Homo sapiens: one gene and its partner. The protein of the gene in region 2 purifies or fractionates together with the protein of the main gene of each other region. This does not show direct contact. Each region holds a gene or a part of one and is shown on either strand. Other genes may lie near its edges. The genes, in order: PROS1 and PROC.

The links.
Region 1: the proteins of PROC (region 2) and PROS1 purify together in Homo sapiens (affinity purification with mass spectrometry; one large-scale study listed by BioGRID and IntAct). This does not show direct contact.

The regions. Positions count from the first base shown.
Region 1 is NC_000003.12:93,872,621-93,876,439, reverse strand, and holds the end of PROS1 (vitamin K-dependent protein S isoform 2 preproprotein), read left to right. Parts: intron 1-2,034; coding exon 2,035-2,195; 3' UTR 2,196-3,389; downstream 3,390-3,819. UniProt on the Homo sapiens protein: Anticoagulant plasma protein; it is a cofactor to activated protein C in the degradation of coagulation factors Va and VIIIa. It helps to prevent coagulation and stimulating fibrinolysis.
Region 2 is NC_000002.12:127,424,725-127,428,543, forward strand, and holds part of PROC (vitamin K-dependent protein C isoform 10 preproprotein), read left to right. Parts: exon of another isoform or gene 1-1,360; coding exon 1,361-1,503; exon of another isoform or gene 1,504-2,380; coding exon 2,381-2,498; exon of another isoform or gene 2,499-3,540; intron 3,541-3,632; coding exon 3,633-3,819. UniProt on the Homo sapiens protein: Protein C is a vitamin K-dependent serine protease that regulates blood coagulation by inactivating factors Va and VIIIa in the presence of calcium ions and phospholipids. Exerts a protective effect on the endothelial cell barrier function.

The DNA of each region.
Region 1 (3,819 bases), on a different chromosome or scaffold from region 2:
TCTTTTTGTATTTTTAGTAGAGAGGGGGTTTCACCGTGTTAACCAGGATGGTCTTGATCTCCTGACCTTGCGATCCGCTCGCCTCGGCCTCCCAAAGTGCTGGGATTACAGGCGTGAGCAGTGACAATAGTTGTAGTATCTAACTACCATCAACTATTGCAAAACAAACAGTCTGGGCACTGTTTAACGTGCTTCAAATATATCCACTTGTTTAATTTTCAAAATAGTCCAGTGAGGTAAGTGCTATTATTATCCCCATTTTACAGATGAGGAAACTGAGGAAGCTGCAGGACCAGGGTGATAACAATGAAGATGATGGACAGTAAATAGATCGGAGATATGTGTTAGAAACAAAATTAATAGGATTTAATAACTGAAAGACAGGTATAAGGATGACTTTTAGGTATCTGGCATGAGCAGTTGCATGGATGGAGATTCCATTTACCAAGATGGGGAAAACTGGAGGAAAAACAGATTCATCTTTAACTGAATATTGGAAAATATGAAATTGGCACCAATATTTCACTTTAAATGGAAAATTAGAGGCAGAAAGTTATTTAGAAGCATTTTCAGATGACATTTGCAATTTATTCTCATGGGGAGAATTCTGAGTTTGATGTCTGGACCTCTGATAACCTTCAATATACTGCTTAAACTGCTCATGGTCTTGATTTCCCATATATGGAAATTGTATCTGGGGTTTTGGGAAATAGAAGTAAATAGGCTTTAAAAGCTATAGAAAGACAGACAGATAGATAGATGATAGATAGATAGATAGATAGATAGATAGATAGATAGATAGATAGATAGATAGAGGTAAGTAGTGAGCATGCCTAATTATTAGGGAGTAAAATTATAGTTTAAATGAATAAATTCTATATTGAAATCTACCTACTACCTTATCCACAAGTTAGTTGAATGCAATTTTAGGAAATCAAACCAACAAAGAGTTTAAAAGAAGTAGAATTATCAAAATTTCAGTGGTTTCGGGATTTTGGCAACAGCACTGAGGACTAACTTCAGGCAAAATGTCTTGAGAGAAAGAGTGGGGAAGATTTGAGAGGAGCTAAATATTGAGATATTAAGAGTATAAACTGTGAGATGGGTAAATTATTAATTACATGCAAAGTAGGCATGTAAAATTCCATGTGAAGTACTAAAACCCAAGAGAAATGAATGATTTTGAGTAATTTCTTTCCTCAAAATCGAATGAATTTGAGTAATTTCTTTTCTCAAAAAAGGAAAAGTGGCATAATCTATGATGTTTAGCCCAACTTGAAAGGGATTCTTAACAAATGCTATGAGCTCACAGTCATAGTAAAGTAGGAACTTTATTCACTGTGTTGGCAAGTTAGAAGTTGAAAATTTAAAGGTTTTTTTTTGGCATAAGGTACTGAAGATGAAGAATAAGGGCTAAAGAATATCCATTGTGAGTTAAGATTAATGGAGAGGAGAGGCCAAAAAAGAGGAAGGAAAATTGTTATTTTTAGGAACTCTAAATAGTACATGAAAGTGAATCCTGTATCATGACCTATTGTATGCTCAACAAAAAAATTGTTTCTTTGGAAAAATACAGAAATCTGCTTTTATTCCAACAATAATAAAAGAGATATATTGATCATGACATTTAAAAGAGATTCCCAAGTAGCTATAATTTGGAGTTAAGAAAATGATTTAACAATGCTTAAACTGTTGCTTAAGTTTAAAGAGAAAATAGTATGTTATTTGTATAATAAAAATAGAATATCACAAGAATATGCTTGTTTCTACTCTCCCTCAAATGTGTTTAAGTTTAAATGGAACTAATTGTGTTTATGAAATCTGAGGAACTCATGACATGCTGAATTCAATGAAGTACAGTAACATGTATATCGGCGTCACTTAACATGTATTTATGGAATAGAATTTCACTATTAACTTTTCCTTTAGGATTAGAATTTGGTTGGAAACAGGAAGTCTGAATGACTTCTCTCACTGTAAACAAACAAGATGCTAAAAGTCTTGGACTAATATTCTAATATTTTCCTTTTACAGATGTTCCATTCAGTGCCACACCAGTGAATGCCTTTTATAATGGCTGCATGGAAGTGAATATTAATGGTGTACAGTTGGATCTGGATGAAGCCATTTCTAAACATAATGATATTAGAGCTCACTCATGTCCATCAGTTTGGAAAAAGACAAAGAATTCTTAAGGCATCTTTTCTCTGCTTATAATACCTTTTCCTTGTGTGTAATTATACTTATGTTTCAATAACAGCTGAAGGGTTTTATTTACAATGTGCAGTCTTTGATTATTTTGTGGTCCTTTCCTGGGATTTTTAAAAGGTCCTTTGTCAAGGAAAAAAATTCTGTTGTGATATAAATCACAGTAAAGAAATTCTTACTTCTCTTGCTATCTAAGAATAGTGAAAAATAACAATTTTAAATTTGAATTTTTTTCCTACAAATGACAGTTTCAATTTTTGTTTGTAAAACTAAATTTTAATTTTATCATCATGAACTAGTGTCTAAATACCTATGTTTTTTTCAGAAAGCAAGGAAGTAAACTCAAACAAAAGTGCGTGTAATTAAATACTATTAATCATAGGCAGATACTATTTTGTTTATGTTTTTGTTTTTTTCCTGATGAAGGCAGAAGAGATGGTGGTCTATTAAATATGAATTGAATGGAGGGTCCTAATGCCTTATTTCAAAACAATTCCTCAGGGGGAACAGCTTTGGCTTCATCTTTCTCTTGTGTGGCTTCACATTTAAACCAGTATCTTTATTGAATTAGAAAACAAGTGGGACATATTTTCCTGAGAGCAGCACAGGAATCTTCTTCTTGGCAGCTGCAGTCTGTCAGGATGAGATATCAGATTAGGTTGGATAGGTGGGGAAATCTGAAGTGGGTACATTTTTTAAATTTTGCTGTGTGGGTCACACAAGGTCTACATTACAAAAGACAGAATTCAGGGATGGAAAGGAGAATGAACAAATGTGGGAGTTCATAGTTTTCCTTGAATCCAACTTTTAATTACCAGAGTAAGTTGCCAAAATGTGATTGTTGAAGTACAAAAGGAACTATGAAAACCAGAACAAATTTTAACAAAAGGACAACCACAGAGGGATATAGTGAATATCGTATCATTGTAATCAAAGAAGTAAGGAGGTAAGATTGCCACGTGCCTGCTGGTACTGTGATGCATTTCAAGTGGCAGTTTTATCACGTTTGAATCTACCATTCATAGCCAGATGTGTATCAGATGTTTCACTGACAGTTTTTAACAATAAATTCTTTTCACTGTATTTTATATCACTTATAATAAATCGGTGTATAATTTTAAAATGCATGTGAATATCTTTATTATATCAACTGTTTGAATAAAACAAAATTACATAATAGACATTTAACTCTTCATACAACGAAGTAGTTCTTCAGTTAAAAGACAGATAAAGCTCCAATATTTGAATAATATTTATGGTTGGGTGGTAGACTGGAGCTCAGAAGGTGAAGAGAAGCAAAAGTAACATGTATCTTTTGACACAAACCATAAATTGTCTTGCTAAATATAATTTGTTTCCCAATTGCCACCAGGTACTATGGGGGATGAATATCAGCAAGTGACTATTGATAATTACATTCATGTAAAAGAGCAAGGAAAAAGAAAAACAGAGAAAACATACATGAGAGAGGGAAAAAAAAGTGAAAGAAAGGGGCGGAGTTCCCTGCTTTTCATTTGATTATGCCACATACAGGTCAGATATAGGGATCAATTCTACCTTTCACATCAGGAGCAGAAACCTTCCCACATGCAATGATGCTCGTAGAGGCTC
Region 2 (3,819 bases):
ATAATTAGATATTTCCAGGAAGCTGCAAAGAAATGCCTGGTGGGCCTGTTGGCCTGTGGGTTTCCTGCAAGGCCTTGGGAAGGCCCTGTCATTGGCAGAACCCCAGATCGTGAGGGCTTTCCTTTTAGGCTGCTTTCTAAGAGGACTCCTCCAAGCTCTTGGAGGATGGAAGACGCTCACCCATGGTGTTCGGCCCCTCAGAGCAGGGTGGGGCAGGGGAGCTGGTGCCTGTGCAGGCTGTGGACATTTGCATGACTCCCTGTGGTCAGCTAAGAGCACCACTCCTTCCTGAAGCGGGGCCTGAAGTCCCTAGTCAGAGCCTCTGGTTCACCTTCTGCAGGCAGGGAGAGGGGAGTCAAGTCAGTGAGGAGGGCTTTCGCAGTTTCTCTTACAAACTCTCAACATGCCCTCCCACCTGCACTGCCTTCCTGGAAGCCCCACAGCCTCCTATGGTTCCGTGGTCCAGTCCTTCAGCTTCTGGGCGCCCCCATCACGGGCTGAGATTTTTGCTTTCCAGTCTGCCAAGTCAGTTACTGTGTCCATCCATCTGCTGTCAGCTTCTGGAATTGTTGCTGTTGTGCCCTTTCCATTCTTTTGTTATGATGCAGCTCCCCTGCTGACGACGTCCCATTGCTCTTTTAAGTCTAGATATCTGGACTGGGCATTCAAGGCCCATTTTGAGCAGAGTCGGGCCGACCTTTCAGCCCTCAGTTCTCCATGGAGTATGCGCTCTCTTCTTGGCAGGGAGGCCTCACAAACATGCCATGCCTATTGTAGGAGCTCTCCAAGAATGCTCACCTCCTTCTCCCTGTAATTCCTTTCCTCTGTGAGGAGCTCAGCAGCATCCCATTATGAGACCTTACTAATCCCAGGGATCACCCCCAACAGCCCTGGGGTACAATGAGCTTTTAAGAAGTTTAACCACCTATGTAAGGAGACACAGGCAGTGGGCGATGCTGCCTGGCCTGACTCTTGCCATTGGGTGGTACTGTTTGTTGACTGACTGACTGACTGACTGGAGGGGGTTTGTAATTTGTATCTCAGGGATTACCCCCAACAGCCCTGGGGTACAATGAGCCTTCAAGAAGTTTAACAACCTATGTAAGGACACACAGCCAGTGGGTGATGCTGCCTGGTCTGACTCTTACCATTCAGTGGCACTGTTTGTTGACTGACTGACTGACTGACTGGCTGACTGGAGGGGGTTCATAGCTAATATTAATGGAGTGGTCTAAGTATCATTGGTTCCTTGAACCCTGCACTGTGGCAAAGTGGCCCACAGGCTGGAGGAGGACCAAGACAGGAGGGCAGTCTCGGGAGGAGTGCCTGGCAGGCCCCTCACCACCTCTGCCTACCTCAGTGAAGTTCCCTTGTGGGAGGCCCTGGAAGCGGATGGAGAAGAAGCGCAGTCACCTGAAACGAGACACAGAAGACCAAGAAGACCAAGTAGATCCGCGGCTCATTGATGGGAAGATGACCAGGCGGGGAGACAGCCCCTGGCAGGTGGGAGGCGAGGCAGCACCGGCTGCTCACGTGCTGGGTCCGGGATCACTGAGTCCATCCTGGCAGCTATGCTCAGGGTGCAGAAACCGAGAGGGAAGCGCTGCCATTGCGTTTGGGGGATGATGAAGGTGGGGGATGCTTCAGGGAAAGATGGACGCAACCTGAGGGGAGAGGAGCAGCCAGGGTGGGTGAGGGGAGGGGCATGGGGGCATGGAGGGGTCTGCAGGAGGGAGGGTTACAGTTTCTAAAAAGAGCTGGAAAGACACTGCTCTGCTGGCGGGATTTTAGGCAGAAGCCCTGCTGATGGGAGAGGGCTAGGAGGGAGGGCCGGGCCTGAGTACCCCTCCAGCCTCCACATGGGAACTGACACTTACTGGGTTCCCCTCTCTGCCAGGCATGGGGGAGATAGGAACCAACAAGTGGGAGTATTTGCCCTGGGGACTCAGACTCTGCAAGGGTCAGGACCCCAAAGACCCGGCAGCCCAGTGGGACCACAGCCAGGACGGCCCTTCAAGATAGGGGCTGAGGGAGGCCCAAGGGGAACATCCAGGCAGCCTGGGGGCCACAAAGTCTTCCTGGAAGACACAAGGCCTGGCCAAGCCTCTAAGGATGAGAGGAGCTCGCTGGGCGATGTTGGGTGTGGCTGAGGGTGACTGAAACAGTATGAACAGTGCAGGAACAGCATGGGCAAAGGCAGGAAGACACCCTGGGACAGGCTGACACTGTAAAATGGGCAAAAATAGAAAACGCCAGAAAGGGCCTAAGCCTATGCCCATATGACCAGGGAACCCAGGAAAGTGCATATGAAACCCAGGTGCCCTGGACTGGAGGCTGTCAGGAGGCAGCCCTGTGATGTCATCATCCCACCCCATTCCAGGTGGTCCTGCTGGACTCAAAGAAGAAGCTGGCCTGCGGGGCAGTGCTCATCCACCCCTCCTGGGTGCTGACAGCGGCCCACTGCATGGATGAGTCCAAGAAGCTCCTTGTCAGGCTTGGTATGGGCTGGAGCCAGGCAGAAGGGGGCTGCCAGAGGCCTGGGTAGGGGGACCAGGCAGGCTGTTCAGGTTTGGGGGACCCCGCTCCCCAGGTGCTTAAGCAAGAGGCTTCTTGAGCTCCACAGAAGGTGTTTGGGGGGAAGAGGCCTATGTGCCCCCACCCTGCCCACCCATGTACACCCAGTATTTTGCAGTAGGGGGTTCTCTGGTGCCCTCTTCGAATCTGGGCACAGGTACCTGCACACACATGTTTGTGAGGGGCTACACAGACCTTCACCTCTCCACTCCCACTCATGAGGAGCAGGCTGTGTGGGCCTCAGCACCCTTGGGTGCAGAGACCAGCAAGGCCTGGCCTCAGGGCTGTGCCTCCCACAGACTGACAGGGATGGAGCTGTACAGAGGGAGCCCTAGCATCTGCCAAAGCCACAAGCTGCTTCCCTAGCAGGCTGGGGGCACCTATGCATTGGCCCCGATCTATGGCAATTTCTGGAGGGGGGGTCTGGCTCAACTCTTTATGCCAAAAAGAAGGCAAAGCATATTGAGAAAGGCCAAATTCACATTTCCTACAGCATAATCTATGGCCAGTGGCCCCCCGTGGGGCTTGGCTTAGAATTCCCAGGTGCTCTTCCCAGGGAACCATCAGTCTGGACTGAGAGGACCTTCTCTCTCAGGTGGGACCCGGCCCTGTCCTCCCTGGCAGTGCCGTGTTCTGGGGGTCCTCCTCTCTGGGTCTCACTGCCCCTGGGGTCTCTCCAGCTACCTTTGCTCCACGTTCCTTTGTGGCTCTGGTCTGTGTCTGGGGTTTCCAGGGGTCTCGGGCTTCCCTGCTGCCCATTCCTTCTCTGGTCTCACGGCTCCGTGACTCCTGAAAACCAACCAGCATCCTACCTCTTTGGGATTGACACCTGTTGGCCACTCCTTCTGGCAGGAAAAGTCACCGTTGATAGGGTTCCACGGCATAGACAGGTGGCTCCGCGCCAGTGCCTGGGACGTGTGGGTGCACAGTCTCCGGGTGAACCTTCTTCAGGCCCTCTGCCCAGGCCTGCAGGGGCACAGCAGTGGGTGGGCCTCAGGAAAGTGCCACTGGGGAGAGGCTCCCCGCAGCCCACTCTGACTGTGCCCTCTGCCCTGCAGGAGAGTATGACCTGCGGCGCTGGGAGAAGTGGGAGCTGGACCTGGACATCAAGGAGGTCTTCGTCCACCCCAACTACAGCAAGAGCACCACCGACAATGACATCGCACTGCTGCACCTGGCCCAGCCCGCCACCCTCTCGCAGACCATAGTGCCCATCTGCCTCCCGGACAGCGGCCTTGCAGAGCG